2 separate regions of the Homo sapiens genome follow, and region 1 is linked to region 2. Evidence: fine-mapped expression QTL. A gene starts in region 2. The other region holds a variant in brackets. All regions are shown on one strand. Distances are from middle to middle.

The links.
Region 1: its variant is fine-mapped to the expression of IL16 in whole blood (TOPMed, PIP 0.94).

The regions. Positions count from the first base shown.
Region 1 is chr15:81,302,631-81,310,964 of GRCh38, forward strand. IL16 (interleukin 16) reads left to right here. Exons shown (of 19, transcript NM_172217.5): 16 at 919-1,020; 17 at 3,278-3,536; 18 at 3,790-3,915; 19 at 5,975-8,334. The coding sequence ends at 6,168. STARD5 (StAR related lipid transfer domain containing 5) reads right to left here. Exons shown (of 6, transcript NM_181900.3): 6 at 6,423-8,334. Among named protein-coding and RNA genes, the nearest start is that of STARD5, 17 kb to the right of the region's middle. RefSeq lists enhancers at 607-1,806, 1,191-1,721 and a silencer at 5,924-6,101. The variant G/A (reference allele first, on the strand shown) is at 3,267.
Region 2 is chr15:81,191,995-81,200,328 of GRCh38, forward strand. It overlaps IL16 (interleukin 16), which reads left to right and starts at 4,885. Exons shown (of 19, transcript NM_172217.5): 1 at 4,885-5,158.

The sequences.
Region 1 (8,334 bases), 110 kb after region 2:
TTCTTTGACATAAGTTTACTCCTTAGTGCCAAGGTACAAACAGGTGCCCCAAGAACCTGTAGGTGTACTTTATTTGGTCTGCATGGTGATGAAAAAAATATTGAATTCTATACATGATAAAACCTGAATTGAAACCTGGACTTTAGGGAAGTGATCTGGTAGCGCTAGTTCTGTATGCCTACGTAGAGCTGACCCTTTGAGCAGATGTACTCGTTGGCGCTCTGCAGTTCCTATCACACATCTGCCCATTTGGCTCATTTTAGGGACCTGCCTGACTCCTATAGGCATCTGAGTTTGAGACCCCTGCTCTAGACTGGAATAGGAGTCTCTGACTGTGTCCTGGCTCCATGGGAGTCCCCGTCTAGGCTAGGAAGTACCGTAGTAATGTGTGTGTGTGTGTGTGTGTGTGTGTGTCACACTTGCACACTGTGCATTGGGGCAGGATGTTAGCTGGGCTTCCTTAGTGCTGCTGCTGTGACCCATGGAGAAGTAGAAGGGAAGAAGGAGCAACCAATTCCTGCAGAACAGCACTGACCCCTGTTTTGTTTTTTGTTGTTTTTTTTTTTTGTTTTGTTTTACCTGAAGTCCTACAACCTGACTTCATCTCACACTGTCCAATATGCTGATTTCTGGCTGACTTCATGGCACTCCCCCTGCCCGGCTGTGGACAGGGTGAATGAGAGAGGAAAATAATTATGCTTGCTGCTTTACATACATTTTTTTTTTCTTCTAAGCTTCCCATGACTCCTGAAGGTCCATTCTTTACAGATGAGGAAACTGAGGTTTGAGGAGGTGATGTAACTTGGAGGCTGGCCAAGCTGGGGTTTGAGATAACAAATCAGTCTGATGTCAGTCCGATGTTAAATTGTTCATCCTCTTGCAGTAAAATGTTTTTGAATGTATGTATTTCCTCTGCAGCAATTAGACGGCATCCATGTCACCATCTTACACAAGGAGGAAGGTGCTGGTCTTGGGTTCAGCTTGGCAGGAGGAGCAGATCTAGAAAACAAGGTGATTACGGTGAGTGGCCAAGTGAAGGGGCATGTCACAGCCAGAGGCAATGGTTCTGGGGGAGGGGGACACACTTGCCAGGAAGGGGCCCTGTGCTGGGGAAATGAAGAATGCATGACACTAGGCCACTGGGCAGGTCCTGTCCACTCAGCACATCCCAGAGCCTGGGGCTGCGTGGAGAGGGTAGCAGGCCTGGCCATGGGCATCTTTTCCTGTGGGTCCCACTATTCTGGCTCATCCAATCTGATCAGCATTGGCTGCTGCCTTCAGGTCACCTGTACCTGACCCAGATGGTTTCTGGTTCTGCCAGTTTTGTGGAGCCATGCTGCGGCTGCTCGCTCTCTAAAGCCGAGTGCATTGCTGTCATCCCAGGGCTGTGTTGTCTCAGGGTATCCTTTGTGTAGGCTGTGCTGGGCTCATTTGAATTTCCATGCCCAACTGAAAACAAATCCTCCAGTTCACAGCATCAGCCAGCATTCAACATACCACACCCCCTTGCAGTGGCAATCTGGCATGTTCCTGCGTGTCACTTCAGAGTCAATCATGTCAGTGGTGACTTCCTTGATTTCCTGATAAGTTTTCTATCACATAAAAAACACTTAAAACCTGTAAGTCTCTATTTCTCTCACTGAGTGCAGCTGAGTATTACAAAAAGATTCCTGACCGTGTAGTTTACTTTCTACTTGAAGAGGAGGAAAGAGAGCTTGCCTGTGGGAATGGCACTTTGGGTATTTTTCTCTGTCCATGAGTAGCAACTTCTGTCCACGTCATCTGGCCAGTCACCCTTGAGACACTGCAGACAACAGGAAACTAGGAGGAAGGCGCACATGTTGGCTGAGCACATGCACAAAAGCTTCTTTCTCCTTCTGTGTTTGAGCATTTCTCTTCCTTTCCAGATGATTAAAAGGGAACTAACGTAGAGCACCATCCACGGCCATGCTGAGCACTCACTGACCTGTTGTCTAAATTCATCCTACCCACACTTTGGATTGATAAATTGGTGGCATTTATGCTTCTTTTATAGAGGAGGAACCTGAGGTTCCTCCTTTAATTAACTTTAATCTTCGTTGGCCTAAAAATCCTCTAGCATTGAGGAACCTGAGGCTCAGAGGAGAGGTTCTGCTTCATGCTTGGATGTTACAGCCTGGGGATTCTAACCATGTAACAGAATTTTTCTAACACCAAAACAATTTAGAGAAGCAAAGAGCTTTGCTCCTATCATAAAAGCAAAACTACAGGTACCACATTTTAGTGGTTTCCATGCATGCTATCACTCAGTCCTCTTAATTATAATGGACCTCATTAAAGAGGCTGAGGCAGAGACATGAGATATTTTTGTGTGTTTGTTTATCCCACATATCTTGCAGAAAGGGGACCAAGAGGTGACTGGAGGTAAAGAGTCAGAATTTCTAGGGGAGGAGCTATAAAAATGTCTAGACTGCCTAGGAGAGTGTTTCTCAAAATGCATTCTGCCAAATGAGACCGAGAATTTCTCTATGAGAAAAGAATTCTTTGTTGAAACACTTTGGGAATCCCCATAATACCCTGCCAATACTTAGAAATCTGCCATGCAGATTTGCATTGTAGACCCTCTAAATGCCTTTTGCTTAGAAATCTGCTGCCATGCAAATTTGCATTGTAGACCCTCTAATGCCTTTTGCTTTTTAAAAGTAGACAATGTCAGAGCTTTTGTTTCACCCAGTATTCCTCAAGTTTCTTTGATTTTAAAAAATTTTTCTTGGCCGGGTGTGGTGGCTCATACCTGTAATTCCAACACTGTGCGGGGCCAAGGTGAGAGGATTGCTTGAGCCCAGGAGTTTGAGACCATCCTGGGCAACACTGGGAGACCCTGTCTCTATTTTTTAAAAAATAATAGGAAAAGCCTTTTTCTTACACAATACCCGTTAATATGCCATAGAATCAGTGCCTTGAGAAAACTACTCTGGGGACTTCTGACCTAGGGCAGGTGAAGCAAAAGATTTTATATGGAATCCCAACTAGAATCGTGGTGGTACACTATAGGACGTTGTGTTGGGATGGATTCTGAGGGCTTACCTGGTCATTACTGCTGGTGATCTCTGCTCTGGATGGAGAAGGAGGGAATGCTGGCCTCTGTGCCAGCAGCTCCAATCTAGGACACAATTATCTTTAATCTTTGTTGGCCTAAAAATCCTCTAGCATTGACTAACCGGTTCAATCCTCCTCCAGCAAGTATGTGGACTGGACTTGTGTGATTTCTGGTCCTGACTTCCTTT[G/A]GTTTGCTCAGGTTCACAGAGTGTTTCCAAATGGGCTGGCCTCCCAGGAAGGGACTATTCAGAAGGGCAATGAGGTTCTTTCCATCAACGGCAAGTCTCTCAAGGGGACCACGCACCATGATGCCTTGGCCATCCTCCGCCAAGCTCGAGAGCCCAGGCAAGCTGTGATTGTCACAAGGAAGCTGACTCCAGAGGCCATGCCCGACCTCAACTCCTCCACTGACTCTGCAGCCTCAGCCTCTGCAGCCAGTGATGTTTCTGTAGAATCTAGTAAGTTCTCCCAACTCAGTGGAAGCCACATGGGCCACATCCTCTTTGGCCATTTGGGGCCAGACCTGATGGGGCTACTCAGTAATTTGTGACCCCAAGAATGTGTGGCTGCCTAGTACACTGCCTGAGACGTGTTTACATGTGCCTGTGTGCAAACACGGGGGCTGTATCACCCCGGGCTCACTTGAAGCCCAGGGCATCTGTGGCCTGGGAGAGGAGAGGATCCCTAACAGAGACCTTGTGTTTTTCTCAGCAGCAGAGGCCACAGTCTGCACGGTGACACTGGAGAAGATGTCGGCAGGGCTGGGCTTCAGCCTGGAAGGAGGGAAGGGCTCCCTACACGGAGACAAGCCTCTCACCATTAACAGGATTTTCAAAGGTGTGGGGTGTGTCTGGTTCTTTGCGTGCTCTCCAGTTGTGGGCATGTGGCCAGGCCCCCAAAAGGCTTCTGGGCACTTTCTGGGCTATGTTGTTTCCCACAACTCCATGTCCTCTTCATAGGCATGCTGGTCCTTTTAGGGCTCAATTCTGCTTTTTCTACTTTTTCTCCTTTGCTCAGACATCCCCTCAATCCCCCCTCTGTTTTGATGGGTCTTCAAAAATACCTAAGTCCTGGGCTTGGTTCGGGTTGGCAGGGCCAGGACTCTAGAGTGGGGCAGTGAGGCACTGGCCTGTGGGGCAGAATTTTAAAGGGGTGCCAAAACACTCAGTAACTCAGATCGATACTATTTTAATGCAGCGTGTTTTTTAAAATTAATTTTAAAAAAACATGTTGGACAAAATATCCAAGTTTAAATCAAGACAGAGTCTGACTTTGTACTGCACACTTGGCCTCATTTGCCTTACCCTAGTCCTGGACACGTCAGCTCCTGCCTTTATTTAAAATGTTGATAGATATTTTGTTCATCAGGGATTGGAGTACAAACCAGTCTGATATGGGGGTCACTTGGATTTCCCTGTGAAAATCATGAATGACTGTGGCTACCATGTAAAACCATCCCTGATTCTTTGGTGTTCCTCAAATTGGAGGTCTCCAAGCCACAGAGCAAGGGGTTGTAGAGAGAGGAGTACTGGACAGGGAGGCAGGTGGGCCAGGTTCTAGTCCCAGCTCTGCCTGTAATGTGCTGAGTGACCCTTCCCTTCTGGGCCTGAGGCTCTTCATCCATAAAAGGAGGTAAAGAGGTACAGGTGTGTGTCTGAGGGCTCTTAGGACTGAGACCCAAAGGGACTCTTAGCTCTGTCCCTCACCCACTATGAGCTCCTGCTGCTGACTGGTTTCGTTAGAGGAAGTTCTGCTGCGGCTGCAGAAACCCAGAAGGTAGAGTGAGGCTTACATGGCATTCCCCCCAGAATCCATGTTAACCCCAATTCTGGGAAAGATATTTCTAATTTTTGAAGGTCAATTTGGAAGGAGCATTGGGTTCAATGTCAAGAGGACTAGATTCCAGTGTTAGTTCTGCCACATGACCTTGGTAGCATGATCTTGGACAAGTCACTTCACCACCATGGGCCCATTTGCTTAAATGTTTAGGATGAGACTGCCAGCTGCAGGGTGATGTTGGAAGGAGAGATGCAGATTCTGGAGCCAGAAAGTCTGGGTTCCAGCCCAGGGCCCACCACTAGCAGCTATGAAGCTCTGGGCCAGTTACTTGAGTTCTTGGTTTCCTCAGCTGTTAAAAGGAAACACAAATAATACACCCCTCATAGGATTACTGTCATAAATGCAAAACATTAGCACAACGCCTGTTAAAATAATTGCCCAATACACTTTAGCTATATTTTCATTACTATCATTAGTATTATCTTCTACTCTTATCAGGATTTGTGAAGATCACTGTGTCAAATGGATGGGAAATTTTATTTTAATATAAACAGTAAAATAGCATTGTTTTCACTTGCAGCTTTGAAATAGTGGGGGCCATATATGGTTGTTTCCTTTTTTATGTGGACACAGAGGACTTCGTGCCAGAGGCAAGATCCCTGTAAATATTGTTGCACAAAAATCTCACTAGCTCTCTTCCCATACCACCCAATGCTGATGTCCTCACCACATGCGGAGAACAAATGTGAAGGGAGTAGGATATTGGGTCAGTGTCCAAAGCAGGGTCTGGGCAGGACTCAGCTCCCCAGAGTCCTCTATGAACTATGGACGGTGCTCCAGGCAGGCTAAGGCGTGGAGCTGCCTGATATTTCCCTCCCCTGGGGACAGCAAGGGCTATCCCTTTCCAAAGGCCATGGAGAGCTGGAGCCTGGTGCCCTAACCTCTGAGTCACCATCTTAAGAGATGCCTCATTTTAGAACCACCAACAAGCAAGCTCCCAAGGGATGGTGCCCTGTTCTCTACCAAGCTATCCTGGCTCTTTGGAGATCAAGGAGAGGAGGCAACTTTCCTTGTTCCCCATCATCTGTGGAACCCATTACCTTCTCCCTCATTTCAGGAGCAGCCTCAGAACAAAGTGAGACAGTCCAGCCTGGAGATGAAATCTTACAGCTGGGTGGCACTGCCATGCAGGGCCTCACACGGTTTGAAGCCTGGAACATCATCAAGGCACTGCCTGATGGACCTGTCACGATTGTCATCAGGAGAAAAAGCCTCCAGTCCAAGGAAACCACAGCTGCTGGAGACTCCTAGGCAGGACATGCTGAAGCCAAAGCCAATAACACACAGCTAACACACAGCTCCCATAACCGCTGATTCTCAGGGTCTCTGCTGCCGCCCCACCCAGATGGGGGAAAGCACAGGTGGGCTTCCCAGTGGCTGCTGCCCAGGCCCAGACCTTCTAGGACGCCACCCAGCAAAAGGTTGTTCCTAAAATAAGGGCAGAGTCACACGGGGGCAGCTGATACAAATTGCAGACTGTGTAAAAAGAGAGCTTAATGATAATATTGTGGTGCCACAAATAAAATGGATTTATTAGAATTTCATATGACATTCATGCCTGGCTTCGCAAAATGTTTCAAGTACTGTAACTGTGTCATGATTCACCCCCAAACAGTGACATTTATTTTTCTCATGAATCTGCAATGTGGGCAGAGATTGGAATGGGCAGCTCATCTCTGTCCCACTTGGCATCAGCTGGCGTCATGCAAAGTCATGCAAAGGCTGGGACCACGTGAGATCATTCACTCATACATCTGGCCGTTGATGTTGGCTGGGAACTCACCTGGGGCTGCTGGCCTGAATGCTTATAGGTGGCCTCTCCTTGTGGCCTGGGCCTCCTCACAACATGGTGTCTGGATTCCCAGGATGAGCATCCCAGGATCGCAAGAGCCATGTAGAAGCTGCATCTTGTTTATACCTTTGCCTTGGAAGTTGCATGGCATCACCTCCACCATACTCCATCAGTTAGAGCTGACACAAACCTGCCTGGGTTTAAGGGGAGAGGAAATATTGCTGGGGTCATTTATGAAAAATACAGTTTGTCACATGAAACATTTGCAAAATTGTTTTTGGTTGGATTGGAGAAGTAATCCTAGGGAAGGGTGGTGGAGCCAGTAAACAGAGGAGTACAGGTGAAGCACCAAGCTCAAAGCGTGGACAGGTGTGCCGACAGAAGGAACCAGCGTGTATATGAGGGTATCAAATAAAATTGCTACTACTTACCTACCACATGCCAAGCACTGTGCTCAGGGCTAAACGGGCATTGCCTTTAGTGATCACAGCAGCTTCTACGGTGTATGGTTCTGTGCCAATGTATTGATAAGAGGGCACACACTGTGTACAGTAAATGGCTTATCCAGCTGGTGAGTGATGCGGCAGATTGAGTTTTCTTCTGTGATTCGGTGGAGACTATCAGCCCAAGATGCTTTAAGTGCACAACATTACAGGGAATGCCTGAGTGCCTGGCCAAAGGGATATTTGGTTTGGCCATCTCTGGATGCCTGATTGCCAAGCTCAGGACCAGGCAATGTGACTTTGCATCAGCAACAACCAGCATCCCTTGACCAGGCCTGGGCCAGAGTATTGGTCTCCTCTCAGCCCCTGATCCTGTGAAGTAAGGATGTGGGGGAAGACCTGGCAAGGACACAGATGAAACACAAACAATAGTAATTCTCAGGCCATCATCAGTGGAGCCATGTTAATGTAATCTGATGGCTTCTCCAGGGTCCACAGGAAGTGAAGAATCTGTTTCCCAGCAGTGGACTCAAAACCCATCTGGGCTCCTAACCTTCCTGTAAACCCCTTTAGTGGCTTCATTAGAGCAGGCGTTCAGCTCACTGTTCTATTCATCTCAAGGAATAATGGGCTTAGAGCAGTTTCTGTCCTGCTGGTTAACTTGTTTGGCCTATTCCATTCTGGATTTTGTCAAGCAGTAGACAAGCAATTAGACAAGAACTTGGAGGCACCATTTGTATCCACTTTTTAGACTTAATAGAAACATTGAAGATGAACATAATCTACCAACGAAAGACGTGATTCAATTCAACACTCCCTTCCCATGACCCAGGCTGGGCAAGGAGGCCACGTGATGTGGAGGGCACATTCCTTGCCTGCACAAACTCACCATCTGTGCACGCAGTGGCCTTCCCTAAAATCAGGGAATTGTTTTAAGTCTTATCAAGCAGCCAAGGGATGAAAGAGAAGGTGGGTTTTCATCAAGACTGGAAGGTGGGGACAGGGATGAGCATGGAGCTGGCCGTGGGCCTGGGGTACCAAGAGACTCCTTGAGAGACCAGGCAAAGCAAGTGATTGGGACAGAGGTTATCTGTCCCAGGTTATCTGGGCATAGATGCAGGTGAGCCCATGGCCCTCCCAGTACCTCCTGTCTCTGGCCTGTTTTAGAAGGTTCTCTCCTCC
Region 2 (8,334 bases):
GCATTTTTGGGGCAGTAAATATATCTCTCTGTCTGATACTACAGTGGTAGATCCATAACGCTATGCACTTGTCAGAACCCATAGAACTGCACAACACAATGGGTGAACCATCACGTAAGCCATGAACTTTAGCTAATAATCATGTATCAGTATTGATTTATCAATTGTAAAAAGGTACCACGCCAATGCAAGATGTTAATAGTATGGGAAATTGTGTGTGTGGAGAGGGAGATCAGTATTCGGGAGTTCTGTACTTTCTATGCAATATTTCTGTAAAGCTAAAACTGCTCAGAACAATAAAGTTTATTAAATTTTTAAAAAAGTGGTTGGGTGCAGTGGCTCATGCCTATAATCCCAGCACTTTGGGAGGCCAAGGAAGGAGGACTGCTTGAGGCCAGGAGTTCAAGACCAGCCTGGGCAACACAGAGAGACCGTGTCTCTACAAAAAAAAAGAAAAAAGAAAAAATAGCCAAATGTGGTGGCATGTGCTTGTTGTCCTAGCTACTCGGGAGGCTGAGGCTGGAGGATTGCTTGAGCCAGGAGTTTAAGGCTGCAGTTAGCTATGATCATACCACTACCCTGCAGCCTGGGCCACAGAGCAAGATGCTGTCTCAAAAACAAACAAACAAACAAAAAACAGTTTTTAAAAGTAATTCAAAGCCCTTGCAAATTTTATGCTGATCCAATTTATATTTTCAAAAAGCCTACCTGCTATTATGTGAAAAATGGATTATGAAGGTCTGCATAGGAACCAGAATCCCAGTTAGAAGGTGAAAGCTATAATCAGACAAGAGGCACTGGTAAGAGGAGGGTGGCGGCAGTGAAGATGGAGAGAAGCGGAAAGAAAGTGGGATAGCTTCTGGGGATAGAGCCAACGAGAATCACTGATAAATTGGATGTGATGTGGAAGGTTAGAGAGATGGAGGGATCAAGATGAATAAAAACTCACAGAGGGCTTATTCTGGCAGGCACTGTTCTAAGAACCTTACAAGTATTACCATATTTAGCCCAAACAAACCTTGTGAGGTGGATGTTAGTGCACTAGCCAGCCTATAGATGACAAAACCAGTCCACAGAGAAGTGCCTTTTTGCCTGCCTATGATCATGCACTTGGGCAGGGACAGACCTGCGAGATGAACCCAGGAATTTTGGCTTCAGAGCCTGTGCTATGTTCTTCCCACCTTGATACTGAGGATTTTGGCTTGGGAAATTGATGGATGCTAGTGACAATTACCAAAATGTGGAAGTTTAGGGAAGAAACATTTTATTAGGGGGGGAATCAAGAGTACTGTTGGCAGTGTTCCTTTTTTTTGCCTCACTGAATAACAGCCAGGCAATGTTACTTTTGAAATTTAAGTTAAACCCCAGCTGAAGATGTTAAGCAAGTGGTAGGAAAAAAGAGTCAGAATTCAAGGAGAAGTCCAGGCCTGGAGAAGTGAATTTGGGAGTTGTTGGCATGTGCGTGGTATATTTGCTTGTGGACTGGCTTCAGTTGCTTGTCGTGATTGTAAGTATCTTAGTGATGGAATATTACTTTGAAAGGATGCAAGCCTGATGGACAGTTTGAAAGAAAAAAAGGCCAGAGAGAGGGCAGCATGGTCTACATGGAAGTCAGCTAGAATTTTCGTATGAAGTTAAAACCCTTGGTTTGAATCTATATGTTGCTGTGGGCCAGGGAAAGAGGGGAAGAGAGCCGGGGAGCGGGAATCAAGGGACCAATGGCTTCTGACTGCACAGCCTTGGACGTGCACTTTTTGGACATGTAACTTCTCTGAGTCTCAGTGTTTGCATCCGTAAGTGGGGACGTACAATAAAATCATCAAGTTTTGGCCTCAACATTCTGTCTAAGTTGAAAGTGCTAAATGCAGAGAGAATTTATTATCATCATGTCCATTACTGTCAGGTTACATTACTAGTAACATTACATTACTAGTTAAAATTGTTACATTACTAGTTAAAATTGTTAAATTATATTCTGCGTCATGTTACATTACTAGTTAAAATTGTTACATTACTAGTTAAAATTGTTAAATTATATTCTGCTCATGATAATACAGTTCGCATGACCAAAAGTGTACAGCATAAAGAATTCCCAAGGCATTTTATAGATTGCAGGACAGCTCTTTGCTCAGACCTCTGAGCAGCCCTGTCAGATTATTGGGTTATTGTTTCCATTTTGTGGACATGGAAACTGAGACTCAGTAAGGTAAAAGGACTTGCAGTTGACAGAGCCGCTTAGTACAGAAGCTGGGGCTTATTGCTCTGACCCTAAGCTCTTTATTTTGCCATTGTTTGAACAGAATAGGAGATGACCCTGTTGTGTCATTTTAAGGACACACTTTCTTTTTGCCTTCTGAATATGTTTACTTGCCACAACAAACATGTATTACTTTTATAACTAAAATTTTGAAATTAAAAATTTTTGTAATTTTAATTTTTTAAATTAAATTTAAATTTGTAATTGTAATTTTAATTTTTAAAAATTAAATTAGAATTTTTAAAATTAAAATTTTTTAAATTAATTTTTCAAAATTTATAATTTTAATTTTGTAATTAAAATTTTTGTAATTAAAAATTTACTTTTGGAAATAAAATTTTGTAATTAAAAAATAGGAGAATTAGAAGGAAATACAGGTTATTGATTATGAAACTTTAGCAAGCATCAGAATCACTTGTTGAACAGATTTCTCAGTTCCGTGGGCTGGAAGGGCCAAAAAGGTGAGCAGGCTTCTGCTTGGTTAGCTGTTGGCAGCATGCTTCCTCCTCTATTGCCTCATTCTCTCAGTAACACTGTGCAGTAGAAGTTTCTAATTTCATCTGGCAGACAATTAATTTCATCTAATTTTCATCGTAGCAAACTAAGGCTGTGAATGACCAAGATCACACAGGAAGCTCTTGGTTGAGCTTCAAGTGGTGCTTGAACTTCCTAGTTCTAACCAGGGCGGGGCTCTCTCACCTGCGTCTTCCTCCCCGTCTCTTCTGGCTTGCAGTGAGCTGGACTATGGAGTGTTGGGCAGGGTGGAGACTCTTTCTGCAGGATGTCCTGAAGGGCAGAGGGGTGATAAAATTTCCACCTTGAAGCACAAACCACCCCGTATTAGGAAAAATCAGGGCCAAGTCTCAACTACACTTTGGAATAAATTTACCTTCTGAGAGTGAGAAAGAACAGATCTTCGGAAAATAGAGGGAGAGGCGGGAACTGGATTCAGGTGCCGATGACAAGAGAGAGCTTAGACTTAGTGGAGGAGGGGGGCTGTGGGGCCCTCCCAGGCCTCAGGATCCAAGAAGGGCAAGGCCAGCCCCCATAGCCCTGGGGTGCTGAATTGCTCCTCAGCCTCTCTGCCAGAGCAAGATGGAAGTGGGGCCTGAGTCTGTCCTGGCCCCACCGCACCCAGGCCATTGTGAGAGAGATTGTGGGTGTGAGCTGAGCAGGCGACACTGACAGAGGCGCTCACTCTCTGCAATTTAGAAATTCCTTCACTGCACTCCAGACTCACTCCAGACTCAGCCCTACAATGTCCCCTGTGCCTGCTGACAAAGGCAGCTTTATCCCCAGAGTGCTCCCTCCTCCCGTGCTTCCCTTGGGACCGTGGGCCTGTGTTCTCCAGCAGCAGCGGCTAGATCTTTGCAGCCTTGCATGGAATTTCAAGGGCTTCCTACAGGTTGCACCTACACCCTCATTAAAGCCCCCAGGAAGCCCTGAAACATTTGGTGCTGAGCGTTGGGAAACATTCCATTCTTTAGAAGAGAGGTCCATACAAAAACCTCAGCCTAGCATGTACACAGGGCTCACAGAGACTGAGCTTAGGAGAGATGTGTGGGATGCTCTTTGCGGGGCAGATGGATTAAATGCCACCTTATGATTAGATTCTCCAAGGGGCTACGTGGGGGAAAGGCACTCTGGTCTCATGACACTAATGCCAACAGGACACACACAAAAGTGCCCCATTCTTTTATGCTGCAGTTTTCAACATGCTCTGTATACGTTAGGTCATGGGCTCTCGCACCTGAGCACGCACCAAAATCACCTGGAGGCTTTGTGAAAACAGAGTGCCAGAGGTGCTGCTTCAGGAGGTCTAGGCCAGGGCCTGAGAACTTGCATTTCTAGCAGATGCTGCTGATGCAGCTGGCTTGAGGACCACTGAGTTACATAAGCTTCTGAGAGCCAGTCTGTTGTTTTTGGGAAAGGGTGGCACAGACAAGAAATGAAATGCTATGGAAAAAGCCTGGGCTTTGGAGACAGGTGGATTTTGACTTGCTAACTTGCTAACTGTGTGACCTTGGGGAAATTCCACGGCACGTAGTAGGTGTTTAATGAACGTTTGTGCAGTGGCTTTCTTTGTCTGCAAAGCAGGTGATATATTTACCAGATTGATGGCAGGATTGTATGTGATGACTTTTTTCCTCTTTTTATTAAATTTTTATATAATTTGAGAGGAGTTCTTGCTATGGTTTGCCCGGGCTTGTCTTGAATCCCCCGGCTCAAGTGATCCTTCTGCCTCAGCCTCCTGAGTAGCTGGGATTATAGGCACGTGCCACAGCTTCCAGCATGTGATGAGGTTTATAGAAAGCTCCTAGCAGCGTGCCAGGCACATTGCAGGCACCGAGTCATGTCTGCTACCTTTCGGCTCTCCTAGTCATTTCTGTGTTGTCCAAAGAAGGCAGGGGCAACTGGGCTGGACCAAGGAACCTCACTGTGGTTCTGTGGCTCTGCACTGGGTTTGCCTCCTGGGTGTTGCCGGCCAGCCCAGCAGATGGTGGACCTTGTTCTGAGGCTGAGCTTCTCAGCACTGGCAGCCCCCCTTTTTGGATCAAGCCTTTTCACGTGGAGCAGTCAGATGGCTCAGATCAGGAGTCTTCGAGCAAATCCATGCCAGGTGGGACACATTTGTCCTGAGTCACCTGTCCAGAGCAGGTGGTGAATATTGTGTCCTACTCACGGCATCTCAACTATCGGAGCCTGGGATCTGACTCAAAGGCCGGCCTCCGTCTGAGAACTGAGCGTCCATTTCTCAATCCTTGCCGGCTCTGACCCAGGCCTGGGCCACAGGCTGTCCGGGAATAAGTGGTGCTGCAATCCCTGCTGGGCAGATGGAGAGAGGAGCAAGGGAGATGGCAGCCCCGGGGGACTGTGCATAGGGAGGTAGGTGGGCACCAGGTGAGTGAATGTCTGTCAGGCAGCTGCTCTGTCCAGGTGGCCGTTACCGGAGGGAGGAAGCTGGCCTCTCTGACCTGAATGGGGAGGGTCTTGGTTGCTAGGACGTAACTTCATATTTGGAAGTGGTGCTGGGGTCAGGGGCAGGAGCAGAAGCCAGGATTGTGTTGGTAGGAATCTCTGTGTCACCATGTCACAGTTAGGTACAGGAGGAAGCAGCTTCAGAAGGCCAGAGCGGGCAGAGGGATATCGCTTGACCTGGCTCTGCAGCACGGGGAGAATTTGGTCCTGAGATTTCTGACTTTTCAGCCTCGTCTCATCCTTGGCAATGGGGTGTGGAAGGAGGTGGAGGAAAGGAAGGCAGCAGGAGAGAGAAAGGCCACGGGGCACCTGATGGGGGCTTCTCTGCTGCCTGGCCAGACTCCTTTTCTCCAAAGTGGGCACAGCGGGTGGGCATCTCTGCAGATTGACCATGGGAAAAGTGTTCACTCTGCTTGCTTTTTGATAAGGGTCCCGTGACTAATTCCTGCATTGGTAGGTCCCAGGATTGGTGTTTTTTTGTTTTTGTTTTTTGTTTGTTTGTTTTTTTCTTTTTTGGTCCATAGCAAGTTTGCTTTCTGTAGCTGGAGAATGAGGTAACAGCATAAGAATAGAGGTTCCCTGTGGAATACAGGGAAGCATCTTCTCCTCCTGCCCTTATCAGGTGAAATCCTCCCACTTCAGGCTGAGCCATACAAAGACGACCCCTTTGTCCCAGGAGGCCAGTTCAAGCTCCCACTGGGTTCCTGGAAGCAGCCTGGGAGCTGCCGTCTCTGTGGCTCCCCTTCCTATTTCTCCAGTTTCCCCCGGAAGGAGAAGACCGTTCAGCCTTTTTCCTCCTCTGTTCTCCTTCTTTACCCTGAAGTTAAGTGATGGTCAACATTTACGAGCACAGTAGAAGGCACCTCCCCTGCTGCAGATATGACGTGGGCATGAGCCGTCAGGTGGGTCAGACCCTTGAAGCCTCTACTGCTCATTTATTCAATCCCCAGTGAGTCTTTTAAATAAAACTTAGTACCCCAACCATTTCCTGGCCACTCTTCAAGCCCCAGGCACCAAGCTAAAATATTCACATACCTCATTTAATTTAAACCTTACAACAACCTGGAGCTTAGGGAGTATATCCCCAAACCGAGAGGTGAGGAGGCTTGCACAGGACCACTCAGCTAGACGTTCCCAGGACCCAAACCCAGCTTGACTCCAAAATCCATGCTCTCACTGGCTTTGTGGCATGCCTCAATAAATACTTGAGTTTCCTCAACACAAAGATGGTCATATATCCATAGGGTTAAAAAATAATCTCTGTTGGATGCAATTGACTATAGAATTATTATTTTCTAATTGTTTGTATTCATGGAAACCTTTTTAGAATTAAAATCTATCATGAAAACTCATGTATAATCAGTTAAGGCAGAATTATTTTGGCAGAGGCAGACCAGGACCTTGAGACCTGCCCTTTTGTCAACCCCTCCCCCTTTCTGGTTCCCAGCAGTGGCCCAGGGGTATAGGAGTGAGAGGGAGGGAGGTACACTTTGAATTGAAATCTACTGGCCAGGTACAGTGGCTCACGCCTGTAATCCCAGCAATTTGAGAGGCCGAGGCGGGCGGATCACTTGAGGTCAGGAGTTCCTGACCAGGCTGGCCAACATGGTGAAACCCTGTTTCTACTAAAAATACAAAAATTAGCCAGGCGTGGAGGCACATGCCTGTAATCCCAGCTACTCAAGAGGCTGAGGCAGGAGAATTGCTTGAACCCGGGAGGCGGAGACTGCAGTGAGCCGAGATCATGCCACTGCACTCCAGCCTGGGTGACAGAGGGAGACTCCATCTCAAAAAAAAAAAATATATATATATATATATATATATATATATAAAATACATATTTTTTATTGTGCATTTGAATTGGTAATACATTTTCATATATAGGTTACGTTTTGCTATTAAAAAGCAATTCATTGTGAATAGCAATATGCTCATAAACACGGGGAGAAAATAGGCATGGGGCAAAATAAACAAATAGTTCCAAGAACTTGGAGTTGTGGTTAACTAGGAAGGCAGCTTGAAATCAGGAATTTACTTCAAGTTCTTCTTTTGAATTCCTGTTGAAATAAGGACGAATCTATGTCAGTCTTGTAAACTAGACAGTGTTGCTCAGTGTGTGCCAGAAACACTGAGAAGTCTCAGTGGATGTCTCAGGTGGATGTGAAGGACGTTGGGTGGAAGGGCGGAGCCCATCAGGAGGGAGGCGCTGTTCTTGCCACATCTGGAGATGCTGGAGGAGAGGTTTGCTTTGAGTGGGAGCAACTGGTAATGCTGGACAGTGACCCGATGCTGGGATCCCGCGTGGAGATCTCCATCGGTCTTGCCCCTGGCTGAGTCTTGGCATGTGCAGCTGGGATGGAAATGCTCCTCCAGTGGACAGTTACAGCAGCTAAGACATGGCTACCTTGCTCAGCCAATAGGAGGCGGTCACCTACAAACATCCCTTCCAAAGGTTCAAGGCTCCCCTGAGAACTTGGATGCTGGGGAATGGTGCACCTTCCCTGCTGCTCACTGCACCTCTCACCTGGCAAAGAAAAGCCACAGGAAATCTAAGCCCTTTCTGCAGTCTGGCATCGGCATATGAAAGATTCCAACGAGGAATTTCAGAACTCATCCCAGCTCCCGAATCTGAGTAAGCACAGACCTCTTGAGTAGGGCTGAGCAAATGCGGCAAAATCAATGCACATATGACAAGATTCAGTGGCCCAAAGAAGGGAGCTAAATGAGGAATCAAAGCAAATACCCCATATGGAATTGCTGTAAAAAATCAGAGAAAACCTGAAAGTAGTGGTTTTCAAGCATGACCCACTAGTGGATTGAAAATCAACTTAGCGGGTTGGAACCAACTTCCTTTTTCTAAAACAAAAAAAGAATAGCATACATCAGATTGCATCAGGTTCTTAGCAAAATCATATTTTATATTATCTTTTTCATACCAAAGATATTTTATATTATTTTTATTATACCGTAGTAAAGGTATTGTTTCATGAAAGTTTTTAGTTATATATATTTATTTATTTATGTATACATATAAATCTTATGTGTATGTGATCCATGTACTATGATGTAAAATGTAAATTATTATGGTAAGTCAAGAT